Linked DNA regions of Homo sapiens: regions 1 and 2 are each linked to region 3. Evidence: fine-mapped expression QTL. A gene starts in region 3. Each other region holds a variant in brackets. All regions are shown on one strand. Distances are from middle to middle.

What was found. PIP is the estimated chance that this variant, and not a neighbour inherited with it, causes the effect.
Region 1: its variant is fine-mapped to the expression of PPP2R3A in blood mononuclear cells (TOPMed, PIP 0.99).
Region 2: its variant is fine-mapped to the expression of PPP2R3A in blood mononuclear cells (TOPMed, PIP above 0.99).

Annotation. Positions count from the first base shown.
Region 1 is chr3:135,887,896-135,890,660 of GRCh38, reverse strand. No RefSeq gene overlaps it. Among named protein-coding and RNA genes, the nearest start is that of PPP2R3A, 76 kb to the left of the region's middle. The variant C/A (reference allele first, on the strand shown) is at 1,203.
Region 2 is chr3:135,993,487-135,996,251 of GRCh38, reverse strand. The region is part of intron 1 of PPP2R3A (protein phosphatase 2 regulatory subunit B''alpha); the gene reads right to left. Among named protein-coding and RNA genes, the nearest start is that of PPP2R3A, 29 kb to the right of the region's middle. The variant A/G (reference allele first, on the strand shown) is at 1,325.
Region 3 is chr3:135,964,184-135,966,948 of GRCh38, reverse strand. It overlaps PPP2R3A (protein phosphatase 2 regulatory subunit B''alpha), which reads right to left and starts at 1,221. Exons shown (of 14, transcript NM_002718.5): 1 at 1,100-1,221. RefSeq lists silencers at 745-1,024, 1,155-1,384 and an enhancer at 829-1,647.

The sequences.
Region 1 (2,765 bases), 76 kb after region 3:
TGTCAGTTCACTGGGCCTTGGGTGTGTCTATCACTTTGTTCCGTCAATGAACTGAAGACTGCAGGCACCTCCACAGACCACACACAGGATCTAATTGGCTCAATAACATCTAACTTTTTGTAAACTAAAAGAATAAAGATTTTTATTAAGCACAGTAAGCAGCCTTCAATATCTTCAAATTAACTTCATCAAAATCCATCTATAAGCAATCAAACTCAATGGCAGTTCATTCTTGCACAATCTATGAGTTAGGGCAAACGTGTCATCAACTTACATTAAGACATTAAGAAACCTACCTAGCTCTTGTGGGCAGGAAATAAGGAACTATACTTCATTTATGATCACTGGTAAGCACATAAACTTCTAGTAGAAAGATATTTCATTTGTATGAGACAGAGAGAATTTGGGACTGATGGCACCAGCCATACAGGTCATACAGGTCACTAGCAAATCTGGGCCCAAACTGTGCCGAGAAAAATAGAGGTATATTAACTTTGGGAAAATTAAACAAGTCAGAGGTGAGGTGAATTTAGATGAATTTGGGTGATTTCAGTAAATGGTGTTGGCCAAATAATTTTGTCAAGCCTTTGGTAATTTAAAGATGCGAAATCTGCCTGTAACCTCACTTGTGATTTTACCTGTGCTTTCTATTCTTTTATTCTTGCTATAGTTTTTTAAAGACAAAAATTCAAAAAAATTCCACTTTCGTCTTAGATACATATTGAAGATACTTATCAAAAAGATACCTATTAAAATCTAAGCCAAGATAGATATGAAGAGCAAATTGCTGCCTGAAGCAGTTATAGTGGCGGTCATGATCATTTCTCTTAGAAGAGTGAGGGGACTGCAGCAAATGAAGCAGGGGTAAACACTGGGAGGGGTTGATTGGTCCTCCCTTCCCCCTGGGGTTTTCCATAATAAGCTTTTCCTGAGCACGTGTATGTGTGTGAGTGTGTATGTTCCATGCCATGGATATTATGTGGCTGGGCTCTAATCATTTTCTCTTCTTGGCTGTTGGCAATGCTGTGGAGTAGAAGGTCAGTCTCTGTCATGTAGAAGAGCAGAGTGATTAGATAGAAAGACTGTTAATTAGAATGCTAAGACCGCAGCAGGGCACCTTCTCACTGATCAGCTGTGTGAAGGCAGCTCAAACTGTAAAAAGCTGGAGAGAATCTGTGTGGAATACTTGTTGGTGCCAAAAT[C/A]TCTAATGCCCCAAAGAAAAAGAGCCAAGTATCAACCCTACACAGGATTTTAACTAAAAGGAAAGACACAAGGCACATTCCAGTTTACGTGTTGAGCAAGTGCCAAAGTTAGATTAAACAGTGAATGATTACTGTTAAAGGTAGTAACAAGGTATATGTATTTCTTCAAATCTTGCTCTAAATGCTGTAATCAATTTTTATCTATAATACTTTGAGATGAATTGTTATGCTTTGTTAACTTAATATTCTATTTTTATAGAAAAAGCACAGAGGCATAGAAAAGCATGTTAACGTCTCTCTCTCCTCTGGGAAGCCTTTTGTTCCAATCTATAGTCACGGGTCTGCCCAGGAGCAGCCAGGTCAAATTGTAGTCAGGATTGTAAAGGAGGGAAGCGTCCATATGTATAAACTCCAAAACTCAAACCTACAGAAGAATACAGCAAGCAATTTTCTTAGAAGAATAAGAAACAATGAGAGGAGCCACAACGGTGACAGGAGTTCATGGGGCCAGGAACCCTGTCTTGCACACCTGGTAGAAGGGCTCTGAAGTCAGGGGGTAACTTTCTGCATGATATCAGTTGAAAAGTTGGTGAATCCTTGAGTACAAGGGCCTCTTTTTCTACACACCTCTTATTCACACTGCAGGGTCGATCGCTGCCATTTTCCAAGCCCTTCCTGCCATATTCCTGCTCTTGCTAATGCTATACATTCTAAACTGCTAAGGACTCCCTGTTAAGAGAGTATTTTCTCGAGGATCAGAAAAAGGTAAAGGGATTTTCAGAAGAGACACCTTGGAAACTGTGGATTTATACTGTAAAGAGTGGAGGCAAAGCCCTTCCCAATTAAAAAGAAAGATTTTTGGAGGATGAGCAGGGAGAATGAAAGTATAAGGTGAAGGCATTGGTGACAATGGTATTCGTTTGAATCACAGCCTACCATTTCCTCACTGCATGACCCTGGGCATGTTATATCTAAATTCTCCAAAAATCAGTTTTTGTCATTCTTATCATAGAGTTAAAAATACTTAACCTCCTGGTGCTGTGAGGAGTAAATGTAATAATTTGTATTTAATAATTTGTATAAATCTCTTGTTACAAAACTTGAAACACAATAAGCATTAAATAAGTGATAGCCAGTGTTACTAGCTATTGTTGTCATGCCTACATTACTGTGCCAGACATTGAAATTCCTGTGCAATCTCCCTATACCTTGCCTACTTATCTCATTTCCTACCATTCACTCATCCTTCCATCCCTGTAATATATGTTCATCATGAACATGTACCAGGCTCCATCCAGGCCTGGGCCCATTTTCTTCTCCTTATTATCACTTTTGTTTCTCTTACGGACTCTGAATGAAATTCTCCTTCCCAGGCTTCCATCTCATTCCCGGAAATTCAACTTGAATATTAGTTCCTTCAGAAGCTATTTAGAGCAATTTCTGTTCACTTTAGACTCTTCCTTTCTCTGTATTGTAATTATTGTTTGTGTCATAGGCTTAAGTGCTAGATTACATAGAGAAGAACTTTCTGTGATGATGGAAATGATCTATAGCTCTATTATC
Region 2 (2,765 bases), 29 kb before region 3:
AACAGGAACAAAGAGAAAGTTTCTGAGGCCAGAATCACATTAATTATTGAGCTACAGTATTTTTCAATTCTAAAATACATTTTTTTTTGGACATTTTAACATCACTTAAATGGAAATACATCTTATAGTTGGTAGCATCTTAAAATCCCTATTGGTCAGGCAGAACTGTGACATGGTTGTCATTTATTGAACGCACTCTAGTAAGGTCAAGAAAACACCATTGTAAAAAAACATGCAGAATAACTTGGCAGAAAATTCCCAAAGATCATAGCAGAACACTCTTTTAAGAAATGCGTCATCACCAAACACTCTGGATGGCAGAGAAAGAAAGTATAAACATCGGTGGCTCTAAATTGAAAAGTGATTTTAAAGAGTCTGAATCCGAATAGATGAAATTCTAGAAATATTTTAGCCAATTATTTCCACTGTATTTTATTTATATATGCACAAGAGTGATATATAGTTAAAAATATCCATCAGGCCAGGTGTGGTGGCTCATGCCTATAATCCTAGCACTTTGGGAGGCCAAGGTGGGCAGACTGCCTGAGGTCAGGAGTTCACAATCAACCTGGCCAACATGGTGAGACCCCATCTCTACTAAAAATACAAAAATTAGCTGGGCATGGTGGTGTGTGCCCGTAATCCCAGCTAACTTGGGAGGCTGAGGCAGGAGAATTAAAGGAACCCGGGAGGCAGAGGCTGCAGTGAGTCTAAGGCTGCAGTGAGCCGAGATCGTGCCATTGCACTCCAGTCTGGGCAACAGAGACAGACTTCATCTCAAAAAAAAAAAAAAAAAAAAAAAAATCTGTCAACGTAAGTCTCATAGAACTCTTTCAATGAGTAAAAAAAGTTCTAGAGGATAAGCACTCTATCATAATCAATAGAGTTTTTTCTTAATGGCATATGAAATAATGAGTTTTATAATCTTAGATGAGATAAAATATGAGAAAAATTTTCAGTCTAAACATCTGTTATAGTCTGCTTTATACCCCTAATACAACAGACTACTTGCAAAATCATAATTGTTCTGAATGTGTATATTTATGCACCTCAGGTCTGTGGCATGCTGCCAGCCCCACCCCCCCAGGCTTTTGGTCTCTGCTGGTCCTTTCATCTCCACAAAGGGCCAGAGTCTGTTTTCCTAATTTCTGGGTGAGTGTTTCATATGCATCTTTAGAGTTCATTCAACAGATATTTATCAAGCACTTACTATTACCACCACTTTAAGCAGATTACGATTACTCTAACACATACTTTCCAGTGCCTCTGGAAAGCTCCACAATAAACTGCTATATGGCAGTTCCTAATGAAGAAGATCTGCTGT[A/G]AAACAAAGGTTTAGAAGCAGCAGATAAGTTAGGATGGAGAGGAACTGGATTTTTGAAAGATAAGAGCCTTATCAGGTAAAAACAGGTTGGACTGCGCCTTGTAAGCAAAAAGGAATTCTATGAAGGCACAGAGACAGAAAAAGGCTGGTGTGTTTAGAGAGGTATAAGGAGTCTGGTATTGGTAACGCTGAAAATGTGCAGTATGGGTTTCACAGTTTTAAAGTCTCCTCCAAATAATAAGAATGAGAAACAGGAATGCAAACTCCATCTTCAAAAACCTAGGAGACACCTGTAACTCCAGATGAAGACAGAAAAGAGAAGTAGGAATGGTAAATGACAGCTTACTGATGACAAGCAAACCAGTTCATACCCTGCACAACCCAAAGAAAGCCAAGGTTTGTTGGTAGCAGGTACCACAGAAAATGGAGTAGGGTAGAGGATTAAACATAGGGGGACTGTTTGAAAGTCTGTAAGAGAATAGTTAGGTCTCCATACCCCCACTCCACAAGCTCAGAAATCATCCCTCTTTCACCCTGCTGAAGATAGAAAGTTGATGTGCTGGGAGGAAAAAACTGAAACAGAAAAGCACCAACATCAGGGGCATCAGACAAAGACGGTGGTAAAGGATTGAAAATAAAGGAGGCCCAGGTCACCAAAAACCAGGCTTACTAACTCCAGCTCCTAGTCTCCACTGTGGATTAAAGAATCTTTTTCTAGAGAAATAGAAATCTCATCTAGCTACATGATCATCTTACAGTGAAGCCCACTAATTGACAAACGCTGTCCACAAACACAGAGCTTCCCTTCAGCTTTTTAGAGCTTCACTTTTATTTTGAAATCAACTTTACTGATAATTTACATACAATAAAAAACATATTAAGTTTGTAATCCAGTGAGATTTGACAAGAACCATGTAACCACTGCCTTAAAAAAGACAGAACATTTTTATCACCGCAAAATTATCCCTAGGCCCTTTCTCAATTTCCCTTACCCATAATATCCAACAACCACTGATCTGATTTCTATTACTGTAGGTAAGTCTCGCCAGTTCTAGATCTTCATATTAGCATAATTACATATGTACTTTTCTCTCTGGCTTCTCTCATTTAGCACTTAGTTTCGAGATTTATCCATTTTACTGTATGTTATCAATTGTACATTCCTTTACACTGCTGAGTAGTATTCCACTGTATGAATGTACCAGAATTTGTTTTGTCTATTCAAATGTTCTGATGCTATTCAACAAATAGATAAAACAAATTCTGGTATATTCATACAGCTGATGGACATTTGAGCTATTTCTAGTTTGTGCTATTATGATTTAAAGCTATTATGACTAATCAAGTAAAAGTCTTTTTGTGGATATGTGTTCATTTCTTTTGGGTAATTAGCAATGGAATTACTGCATCATGATAAATGTACATTTAACTTTATAAGAAC
Region 3 (2,765 bases):
GCTCTGACCTAGTATGGCAATTCTTAGGGTCTAGGCGCTGGGTTCTGTTTACAAGAAACTAAGGCCTGAGACTAAGGAAGAACAAAGAAAAATGCCTGGCACCAAAGGTGTGGGGGATGTTTTGTACATAAATGAAGATTTGAGGAGGAATACTTCCTCAGATGTTGGAAGGAATTACTCTTTTTTTGCTTACGTGTTAAGAATTTAATGTTTTCAGGCCATTTCCTAATTAGAAAATACCTTATAATTTACAAACAATAATTTGTCTTCCCCTACATTTGCTGACCACCAAGACTGGATAAAATTTCCTTAAGCTTTACCAGAGTGGGAGGACTGGGAATAACGGGAGCACAACAGAGTTCGGATGCAACATCAACTCCAAGCCCGGCCAGCTGGTTTCCATCGAGAGGTCCCCCAGGAGAACGCCCCTCCGCGGCGGCGGCGGCCAGGTCGGCGCGGGAGAGACCCACCGAGGCGCTCCAGCGCGGCCGCGGTGCAGGACCAGGGGCCGCCCGGCCTCCGTTTACCTTTGTTTCAGGTACCCCGGCTCCTGGCGGGCCGGGAATCCCGTCCGCGGCCCGGAGCTGGTGACACATCCTTCTTTGGCCAAGTCGGGCCGAGGTTGGGCAGGGGGCGGGGAAGGAAAAGAAAGCCTCAGCGCCTAACGACGTGACTCTCAGTTCTTCCAAAACGCTGGCATTTGTTTCTCTGCCAGGCTTTCCTGTTAACAAGTTCCCGAGGGCTGTGCGGGCGAACTGGCCCAGGAGCCCTGAAAAGTGGGAGGGCCCAGGCCGCCCCCGCCTACCCTCCTCCGCGGGCGCCCCTGGGGCAGGCAATTTCCACACCTCCCTGGTGCCGTGTCCCGGGACCGGCCGGCCGCGCCGAGGCAACGCACCGCACCGCACCGCACCGACTGGAATTCCGACTTCCACAGCCCAATCAGCTCCGTGTGGCCCCTCTGGCCAGGCCGGTCCCCGCCCCCAGGTCCCGGCCCCGCCCGCCCCGGCCTCCGCGCGCCGCCCCGAGCCTCGCCACCCCCTCGGGCCGGGACGAGGGAGCTGAAGGCTCCAGGCCGTGCGGCCAGTGTTCCTTTGCCTACCTCGTTGCCCGCGGCTCCTCCTCCGGCGGCTCAGCTCGCGGGCAGCGCTTGCCTCCAAGCCTCCCCGCGGCGCGGACTCTCGGGCTACGAATGCGGCGCGTGAAGAGCGGAGGCCCGAGCGCGCCCCGCCCAGCCACCCGCAGGCCCCTACCTCCTTCTCCTCCTCCTCCTCCTCCTCCTCGGCCCCACCCTCGGCGGCCGGCCCGCCCGGAGCCCCGCCCACGCGCCAGGCCCCGCCCACTCTCCGGCCCCGCCCCCAGCCTACGCCCCGCCCCTCTGGCCAAGGCAGGAAGGGGGCCTCCAGGGGCGCCGCGAGAGCCGCTGTGGCCTCGGCGAGGGCAGTCTCCTGTATGGCGGCGCCGCGGGGATGCGATTCGTGGTGGTCGCTGCTGTTTGACAGATTCGAGTCTCTTGCTCGGATTTATTACTGTTATTGTCATCGTCAATATTGTCATCGTTGTTATTGTTATCGTCATTAGTTGTGTTGCCCTCTTCAAGGGGCCTTCAAGGAGGCCCCTTGAGGGCAGCGCGCTGCTGGCCAGACATTCCCTGGCGCTCCTGTCTTCCCACAGTCCTGCACCTGCGCCACATTTCACTCAGCCCAAGAAGTTGTGTGAATTTTAAAAGAAGTGATACTTATTTTTAACTGTTATTGTTAACTGTTACTGTTAAATAAAACACAAATATAGACAGCCATATAAAACCAATGTACAGCTTAATGGATTATTCCGATACACACACCCTTATAACCACTCGCCAGATTTATTAATAACACCGTGTAATATGGTCTGCTCTGAAACAGAACCTCATTAATAGCTGGAAGGACATAGCCTGGAAGGGCCTCCCAAAATTGCCCTCCTTCTAACTGCCACAGTACTCAAATGTGACAGGTCCATAATCATGCCCTCTCCAAGAATATATTTGTAAAATGGAAATTTCTCCAGAATTAGGAACCTCCAATTGAGTATCTTCGTAAAAATCTTGATAAAATGATAAATCTATAAATATATAAGCATATAAATAACAATAAATAAGTCAATCAGTTGGGTTGAATACCATGAGTAAGGAGCATGGGGGTGGGGGATGGGAGGTATGTAAAGACTTAAAAGGATTAGGTGGGCTGTGAGGACAGGTCCTGGGCACCTGGGTTGTTCTCACTGTCTCCCCAGCACCTAGCATAGCACCAAGCATATACTAGGTGCCATATGTGTGTGTGTATATATGTGCATTGTACATATATGCACATATATGTGTGTGTGTGTGTATAGCACAAGGAAAGAAAAAATTATGTAAGATAACCCCAAACAAGCTTTACATACTGAAATTTCACCCAAGGTCAATCCTCCCAGTAGCTAAAGTGTGCTCTGTGAGATGCCTTGATGCCCTAGAGAGAAAGAGACCATTTTACTTTCAACTTTCTACTGCTTTTCCATTTCAAAAGCCCTTTCACATGCATATGGTATCTTATTTGAGACTGAGAGCAACTCTGTGAAAAATGCAGGGCAGGATAGGACTCTGCAAAGGTCACAGTGCAATGCATATCAGTAAGAAGGAAAAGTACACAATGTACCATAAAACAATGTTAAAACTGCTGACCCTGGCAACCTGGATTCTTGGTTTGTCTCAACAGTTTTATTGCCAATGTTTTTACATTAGGGCTCCTTTG